Regions from separate parts of the Homo sapiens genome. Here region 2 is linked to region 1. Evidence: fine-mapped expression QTL. A gene starts in region 1. The other region holds a variant in brackets. All regions are shown on one strand. Distances are between the middles of the regions.

Region 1 (4,420 bases):
TACTGACAATATGTAAAGGACATTTTTGAGTCCTTTTCAATCCTTTAGGAGGGCAGCTCTTCTGTACTTCATTAAAATACAAACTCTTACTTTGATTTACTTTCAGCTCTAAACCTTGTTCTCCCTGTTAATGAAATGCATTTGTATCATGCATGAGATACATACTTCTTATTATGATTTAGAACCTTCCAAAACATTAATGTTGCTCAATAGAATTGCCATACCTAAGATTTAATACCATGCCTATCATTTTCTTGTTTCTCATTCTCTCCATCCTGAAGTACCGGGATTCTCATATAAGTAACTTTGCCTGAGCTTGGGTAAAAGTTGACTCCTAATGTAAGGTGAACTGGAGAAGAACATTTCTTTCACCTCTTTCCCTGATCTTATCTTTTTTATTCAGCATTCCCTCTAAAGAGAATTTCACTCACAGAATTAGAGAGAGACTCTGTACTCTTTTATCGTATCACTTTTAGAAACTAAAACCCATTGGATTTTTTGAGAATTAGGAATCATTATACTGTGCAGAGTTTGGGCTTTTTGACACATTTCCATTCCTTCAATTGAGCACTCCTTTTATTGGATCACTGGAATAAAATCATGATTATTAAACATGTCACAATATACAATTCTCATTTTATAATAATTTATGAAGACCTTGCTTAAATATATGTTCTCAAATCAATTTAAGTTGAGCACATATTAAGCAAAAATAAATTTAAAAATGCATCTTGCCTCTCAACAAAATATTTCCTTGCCTGAGTTGTTCAAACTCCTGCAGATAAAGCATATTTAAATAAAGATAAGGGGCTATCACTTGCTCTTATTTTCATTATATTCAGGAGATGACCACTTTGATTATAAGTAAGAAGACTTAAAAATACTCATGATTTCCAACATGAATTACAGCACTTAAGACTTTGTCTTCTCGTTAAATCATGCTTATTCGTGCATTTTATATAAAAACTCTGGAGAATAACTTAACAGGAAATCTAAAATAAGAAAAAGAAACACTGAAATTCCCCAAATCTCTATAGATAAAACCCTTTAAGGCTTAGGATTAAGCATTTGAAAATATCAGGAGCATTTAAAATATGTTCATGCTTAGCTTTCTGTTCACTTGCTATCTGCAACATGAAAAGTCTGGCGTTGAGTGGCACGAGAGCATTACTGTTTCATTTTGATAATCCAAGTTTAATTTTAATACATCTTTTAATTTTACTTTAATTTAGGTTTTTTTGGGGTTTCAGAGGCAGAGCACTACTTTGTTTCTGACTAAATGACAAAAATCATTAACTGCCAGTGACTATATGAACATGATGTGAACAATATATGCAAAGAAACTAGGGCAAAGTTTTTTGTTTTAGAAAAACATATACTTATATTCTATATATTCTGAATGATCCTCATATAAACAACACAACATACAATATCTCAAAATGTTACTACAACACGGCTCATTACTTTGCAGGTTGCAAACGCAGCGTGTAAATCCTTTCCTCTCAACCATAGTAAGTAAAGACACAGATACAACACGGTTTGCAAGTCTTAGCTCTGCTCTGTAAACTTACTGCTATCATAGGTCTTCTGCATAAGTATTTTTAGTGCCCAGTTCCTAGTTCAGTGCTTAAAAATCCTGCCGATCCCTGGGTTGGAACAAAGCTTTCGGAAGCAATTAACTGCTTTTGCCATCCCAGGTGCCAAACACACACACAATGTCCTTTTATTTGTGGAAATACACACAGATCTATTCTGCATGTGCTCAGAGCTCAACACAAATATCACCCCTTTCCCACAGGCAGCAGGAAGGATGTGGTTTGAAGGACATAGTTGCTTCATCTGAATGTTCAGTTGTTCAAAAGATCTCTTGTTGCTACGCTGAGTTGCGGCTCTACTACCTACGTTTAAGAAGATATAACCAGGCCGTGCCCAAAATCCCACTTTTATCTATTTAAACAGGCATTCAAGTAGATCGTGCAATTCTTTGCCCCTTACCTTCAGTGGACACATGCTGAAAATGTGTTCATAATCAAAAGACATTCCCCAGAGCTGATGACCCAGTAATTCCTTACGTATACAGGTCAGCTGCAACAATACCGTACTAAAATCGCCAGATGAAATGGTCAGAATTACCCGGTGGCTTGATAAAATCAGCTTACTTTGAGTCTAATCCAAGGATAAATATACAGAAAGCTCCAAGCAGTGGAAACTGTAATCACCTTAGAACTGCCCCCTGAAACTGTAATACTGCCAGGAAAACAAATATTTGCTGAATTATAGGGTGCTATATTGGTTTTACCTGAATGCAATTAAGGGCTAAATAACTACAAGCTACTGTTTAAAGTGGACAGGTATAACCAAGAGCAGGGGACTAATTCTGCCAACACCACTAACACCAGTCCCCAAAAACCCTAACGATACACTCAGAACAAGCAAACCAGTAGATCTGATTACCAATTTCACATATCCTGCATTCTTGGAGCTCACCCATTTCATCATTTCCGGACACTCAGACTCTAACTAGGAACACCTAACTCATAGCCCTGTATTTTGCTAAGTTTTTCCTCTACTCTTGAGTCCTCCTTTAATCTATAGAGTGTTATTCTACACTGGACCTCTCTCTTATTTTTTGGAGTCTAGCATCTTGCATCTTCCTGGAGCCCCAACTAAACTCATAACTTCTAAGCTTCTAAGAAATATGTAAGTTTTTCAACTCTGTACATTAAGTCTTTTTGTGACCTTAAACTTACCTTAGAAAAAGATGTACTGTTAGTTACCAACTGCTTCTTCAGCCTTGCGTATAATGCCTGTTCCTCTTTATGACTCCCCTTCAAACTTACTAGCTCATGAGGATCTGTAATTTAAGAAAAGAGCTTTGGCAACAGGGTAGTTAAATTGCTACTAGTGGTTACTTCTGAATGACTTCAAGTTGATTCTTTCCTTGTGTTTTCTTCAATCACTTCTTATTTTTACTAATCAGTGTCACTATGTGTGAGCTATGACACTCCTTAGAACTATGCAAGTAGGCTTCAAAAAAAAAAGAATGGAAATTTGATGAAAATGTTTTACTGCTAACACTCAGCTAGAAATACCACCTCTGAAAAAGTGTACAAAACTCCATGTACCAGGTGGAATATTACTCCTGACCCAGAGTATTATATAAACATCTGTATTTTCTTCCCCAATTAGAAACAAATAGCTCTTGATGAAATGTCTGTGCCCTGGTCCTTCAGAAGTCAGTATCTGACTCTAAGATGCCAGGAAAATTTCACCTTGTGTCATGTTTCACGCTGAGGAGTTTGTATAGCGCTAGTGTAAACCTTGGTCTCTAAGACACATTCCATGGTGAATTTATTTCAAATTCCAAACTGAGTTTATTCCATTTCACTCACTTAAAATTCCAGTTGTGATTGGAAAATATACACTTCATTTACCTTCTGCGCAGTGTTCAATGAACCGCTTGTCATGTTTCACCCTAGTAGGTTGCATTTCAATCCTGAGTGTGTCTGTGTAGCAGCTGATTAAAGCTTTGCTATTATTTGTAAGGGATGTTATAACATGCACTGTCATCTTTCTTGGCATTTTTTGAAACGGTAACATGAGGATTCTGGCAAAATAATATGGTAGTTGCTACTCTTTCCTTACACCTATACCATTTACTTGTCAGTAAACAAAATCATGTTTTCAATGAAGTAGACAAATAGAAAACTCAGCTTCCCTATCCTGTTGTATCTTGTGCCACTCTCTATAAACTGACATGGCATAAAATGACATAGCTTGATAAACTGCTGGAGTCAAACACAGATTACTGCCATTTAGCTAGAGCAGGACACGTCACTTGAGGACACGGCCCCAAGGAATGTCAGTTCTAGAGGAGGAAGGATAGAACCGAAATGAGGGATCTGGTTCTTTGTTGTGTGTGGCTGAATTTCCCGGACATTGTTTAAGGCAGAAATGACAGGTAGCATAAAAGAGCAAACCTTACCTTAAGAAAGCAGATTATATAAGCACCCCCCTTGAATCCCAAATTCCTGCCACACTAGGACTTTACCACATAGGTTATTGCTCAGATCTGATGAAATGTTAACTCCAATCCGTAACCAACTGATAACAACCAAAAACCACATTAGTCATTATTTACTAAGATAACAACGATAAAAATCATGTGTGTGTGTGTGTGTGCGTGTGTGTCTTTCCTTGAGTTCTGTATCAGGATTTTATAATGCTGAGAGAGTTGTCTATTAAGAAACATGTTTCAACTTTATTCCAAAGAAATGGTCCCCACTACTCTCTGTGAAACTGTTAATGTCCAGCATGGCTCTTGTTATCAACAGGATCTATTCTATGCTTTCCTGGTACCAGCATAATTAAGTCAACAAAACTGGTTGCTTTCAAAGCCAATAACTATTCAAGGCTACTT
Region 2 (4,420 bases), 32 kb after region 1:
AAGGAGAACTCCACCCAACAACTCTCTCTGTCTCTCTCTCTCTCTCTCTCTGTGTCTCTCTCTCTGTCTCTCTCTCTCTGTTTTAGTGTCAAGTGATCCTTTAAGCGTGTTCTGGGATGTTATGGGCTCAGAAGCATGGGCAGTCCTAGAGTTCTTACCTCCTCTCACTCCATGTGATCTCCCTGGGCAATCTTGCCTCTTCCCAGGCTTTGAATTGGCATAAAATAACATGGTATATTCCCAAATCTCCCCTAATTGGACAGCTGCTGACTGAAATCCGTACCCTGGACACGGAATATCTACATGTGTATCCTAGTACTTTACACCTTCCTCTACCAGAATATAACCTCCACAAAGGCACAGGCTTTTCCGTTTTATTTGCTGTGTTAGCATCAATGCCTAAAAGAATGTTTGGCACAGAATATGCAGTCAATAGATATCCCGCTGTTAGGATCTCTGAGAAAGAGAAAGCAAACTCTCTGAAGACGTAGTGCAAAGTTGTGGAAGTAAACGAAATCCCTCCTCCAACATAAGTTGAATACATTTGAGGCATAACTGTATGTTTTCTAATGTGCAGCAATATTAAAAATCTATTTCACAAACGCTGCTATTTTGTAATCCTTTTAACTCTTATTAAAAAATACTTTAGAGAAATTTATATTTTTATTCATTTTTTCATTCCTTTATGTAAGCAACATTTAGCCTAAATTTGAATGTCAGTCTTTCTGCGTGCACAAAGGAAGTACTCAAAGCTAAGGCAACATTGGTTCCTTATCCTCCTGCATCTTACATTTTTGACATTTCAATATAGAATCCTTCTCTGAAAAAAAAGTAAACTGAGAAAAATCTCATCCTATATTTTTCAACAAAAAAGATTAGTGATTATTAACATTAAAACAAATCACATTTTTACTCTAATTGTTATTGAAAACTCCCATAGAAAGGGTTAGAGAATTTGTAAATAAATGTAGTAGTATTGTATTAGAAAGAAGGTAGTATACTTTAATTACCATCTTTAATTTTTGAATCTTTGAATAGCAATCTTTAATTATGACTTAATCAATGGTGAATTTATCATAATACTGCAAGCCAAAGTCATATACACTTTCATTGTATATGAAAAGCAAGGAAATAAATAAGATTGCAGGGCAAGTTTAACTATCCTAAGAATACAAAATGACTTAAAATAATTTAGAAATGTATATTATATATACATATATAAATATATAATATATAAAAATAAAATATATAAATATATATATTATATAATATATATTATATTGAATAATGTATTATATATAATATTGTATATTATATTGAATAGTGTATTATATATTATATTGAATAATGTATTATATATAATATTATATATTATATTGAATAATGTATTATATATAATATTATATATTATATTGCATAACATATAATATTATATATTATACCGAGTAATATATTATATATATTATGTATTATACTGAGTAATATATTATGTATAATATATTATATTATATGGAGTAATATATAATATCATATAATATATGTTATATAAATAAATGGGAATATATGTAAATATTATATATTGTATTAAACATATATAATATATATTATAGTATATTGAATAATATATAATATATAATATAATATATTTATAAATATGATATGTAAATATATTTATATATATTTATATACATATTTATATTTATATATTTAAAACCCAAAACAATGCTTTCAAATTAACGGGAATATATATGCACACACACACAAACACACACAAATATCTATACGTACATATATATAAAATACCCACATATACATATATATGTGTATATATGTATTATATATTATTTAATAATAGATTATATAATACATATATGTGCATGTGTTTTATATATAATACATGTGTATGTGTAT[GTGTATA/A]TTATATATATGTATTTTTTTCCTTCTGCAAATAGATCAGTGAAAAACCTTGCAATATATTAAAAGAAAAAGTAACAAAGTATCAAAACTCCCAATTTTTTTCAGGCTGGCAACTACCTTAAGAGCAGTTTTGTGTATTAATGTGAAGCATCAGTATTCATGACACATTTAAGAGCAGTCGTATTTGATGGTGGTAAGAACATACATCCATGCATCACTTAGCGACATTAACATGTTCTAAGAAATGTGTCATTAGGTAATTTCATTATTGTGTGGACATCATAGAGGGTACTCACACAAACCTAGATGGCATAGTTTACTACATACCTAGGTTATATGGGATAGCCCATTGCTCCTAGGCTACAAACCTATGCAACATATTACTATACTGAGTATTGTAGGCAATTGTAACACAATGGTATTTGTGCTATCTAAACATATCTGAACATAGAAACAGTAGTTATTATGTTATGGGAGCACTGTTCTATTGTGGTCTGCCTTTGACTGAAGCATCATTATGCAGCACGTGGCTATGTGTGTAAACTCTAATGAATATTTTCTTAACTGTCCCTGGTTAAAACATGTCACATTTATATTAATAAAGGCATGTTTTTATGACCTCATAATGTACATATGGCAAATTTGTTAAATTTGTTCAATGTTAAAGAGTTTGAAACTTAAAAAGAATGGAATTAACTATGCAGTAAGTTAATGATTAATTTTAGTATTTCTAAGTACTATCAATATGATCTAATTCACTCAGAAAGACCATGATGCTCTGATAAATAACGACGGATTAGCAATACTACATGATATTGCCCTGGAATATTATCACTTATAAAGCATGCTAATGAATAATCTCTGAACCACCACCAGAGTTACAAAAGTGGCAGGGGCTGCCATTAAAATGAGTTATTAACAAATAAACTAAAGTGATAAATCAAATATAAAACTTGTACAAATATTCTTAGTAAAAATGGATCAATTATTCTTGGACATCAAAGGACATAGCTACCATTTTATTATTTTTCCAAGCATATTATTATTTTATTATTATTAAAATATAGTATCAATAAAATAATAATGTAATAGATAATCTTACATATATTAAGACAATCAATACATATTGAATGAATGGATAACATTTGATATTAAGTAATAGCTATTTTTCTTAAGAGAGCATCATATATTTTAAAGCACTTATGTTAATAATATGAAGTAAATTGAATGCCATTCCCTGTTATTAAAGCTATTAAAATCTTAGAAAGCAGGTATATTACATTTTTCTCTATTTGAACTTTCTTCCAACAGGTGAATGGGGCAGTCAGTAGCAGTTCAAGTTAATGAAACTCTCTGCTGATCTTTCTGAATGCTCCAGAATGTGGAGCAAATTAGTTGATTGCATAATTTCCCTAGCTGTAAAATGATGATAAATCAAGAAATTCATGGATCCGTTAAAATTCAACCAGAAAGCATTTATTCAGTGACCACTTTGCACTGCCATTAGGGACAAAGTACTATGATGAATATGGTGAGGATTCCAGTCCTCAAGGAACTCACAGTCTGAGGAGTAGCAATAAATGAAATTGATAAAGTATAGTGCAGAGTGGTGAATTCTGCGTAAATATGAAGGAAGGGCTCTGGGGAAAGACATGGAGAACTTTTAACTCTGCCCAGGGAAGGGTGAGCAGAAGGAGGGATAGGCATCACTGAACAGGTGACACTGGATCTGAGTCTTGAAGGTGAACACCAATTTCCCAGGAAAGAGGGCTCTGTGTAGTCCAGGCAGGATGAGCAGCACATGCAAGTATACTGTTTAGATAATTCCCAGAAAATCATAAAATACTGGAGCAGTGGAACATATGATTCACAGAAGGGAACAGCTTCAGATGAGCTCCCATAGAAACTCTGCTGTTTTATGATAAGTTTATAGAACAAAGCGCCTATAGGCACCATGGAATCAAGAGTTTTTAAGGTAGTGAGTAACAGAAGTCCATTTTTTTAAAATTATAGATTACTCTGGAATCAGTGCAGAGGAGAAATTAATGTGAGACAAAACTGATGGTAGAAAGATCATGAAGGAGACTATTAAAGAGCATATTAGAGTCATTCAGTTGAGATGAGAAGGCAACCAGTGGCAGGAGGCGTGATGGGGAGTCAACGACAGAACACAGTTTTTTTGTTTGTTTGTTTTTGTTTTTGTCTTTGTTTGTTTTGAGATGGAGTCTTGCTCTGTTGCCCATCATTCAGTTGAGATGAGAAGGCAACAATGGCAGGAGGCAGTGACAGGGAGTCAATGACAGAACACAGTTTTTTTTGTTTGTTTTTTGTTCTTATTTTTTGTTTGTTTGTTTGTTTTGAGATGGAGTCTTGCTCTGTTGCCCAGGCTGGCATGCAATGGCACGATCTCAGCTCACTGCAACCTCCGCCTCCTGGGTTTAAGCAATTCTCCTGCCTCAGCCTCCCGTGTAGCTGGGACTATGAGCACACACCACCATACCCA

Direction of the effects. Alleles are on the strand shown, and positions count from the first base shown. SD is a standard deviation of normalised expression in the study named.
With allele GTGTATA in place of A in region 2, the expression in activated naive CD4 T cells of the gene that starts at base 2,531 in region 1 is higher (large effect, 1.8 SD a copy in Schmiedel 2018).

What was found.
Region 2: its variant is fine-mapped to the expression of CHRM3-AS2 in activated naive CD4 T cells (Schmiedel 2018, PIP 0.93).

The regions. Positions count from the first base shown.
Region 1 is chr1:239,717,230-239,721,649 of GRCh38, reverse strand. CHRM3-AS2 (CHRM3 antisense RNA 2) reads left to right here and starts at 2,531. Exons shown (of 3, transcript NR_103776.1): 1 at 2,531-2,700. The region is part of intron 5 of CHRM3 (cholinergic receptor muscarinic 3); the gene reads right to left.
Region 2 is chr1:239,685,678-239,690,097 of GRCh38, reverse strand. All of the region lies in intron 5 of CHRM3 (cholinergic receptor muscarinic 3), which reads right to left. Among named protein-coding and RNA genes, the nearest start is that of CHRM3-AS2, 31 kb to the left of the region's middle. The variant GTGTATA/A (reference allele first, on the strand shown) is at 1,912.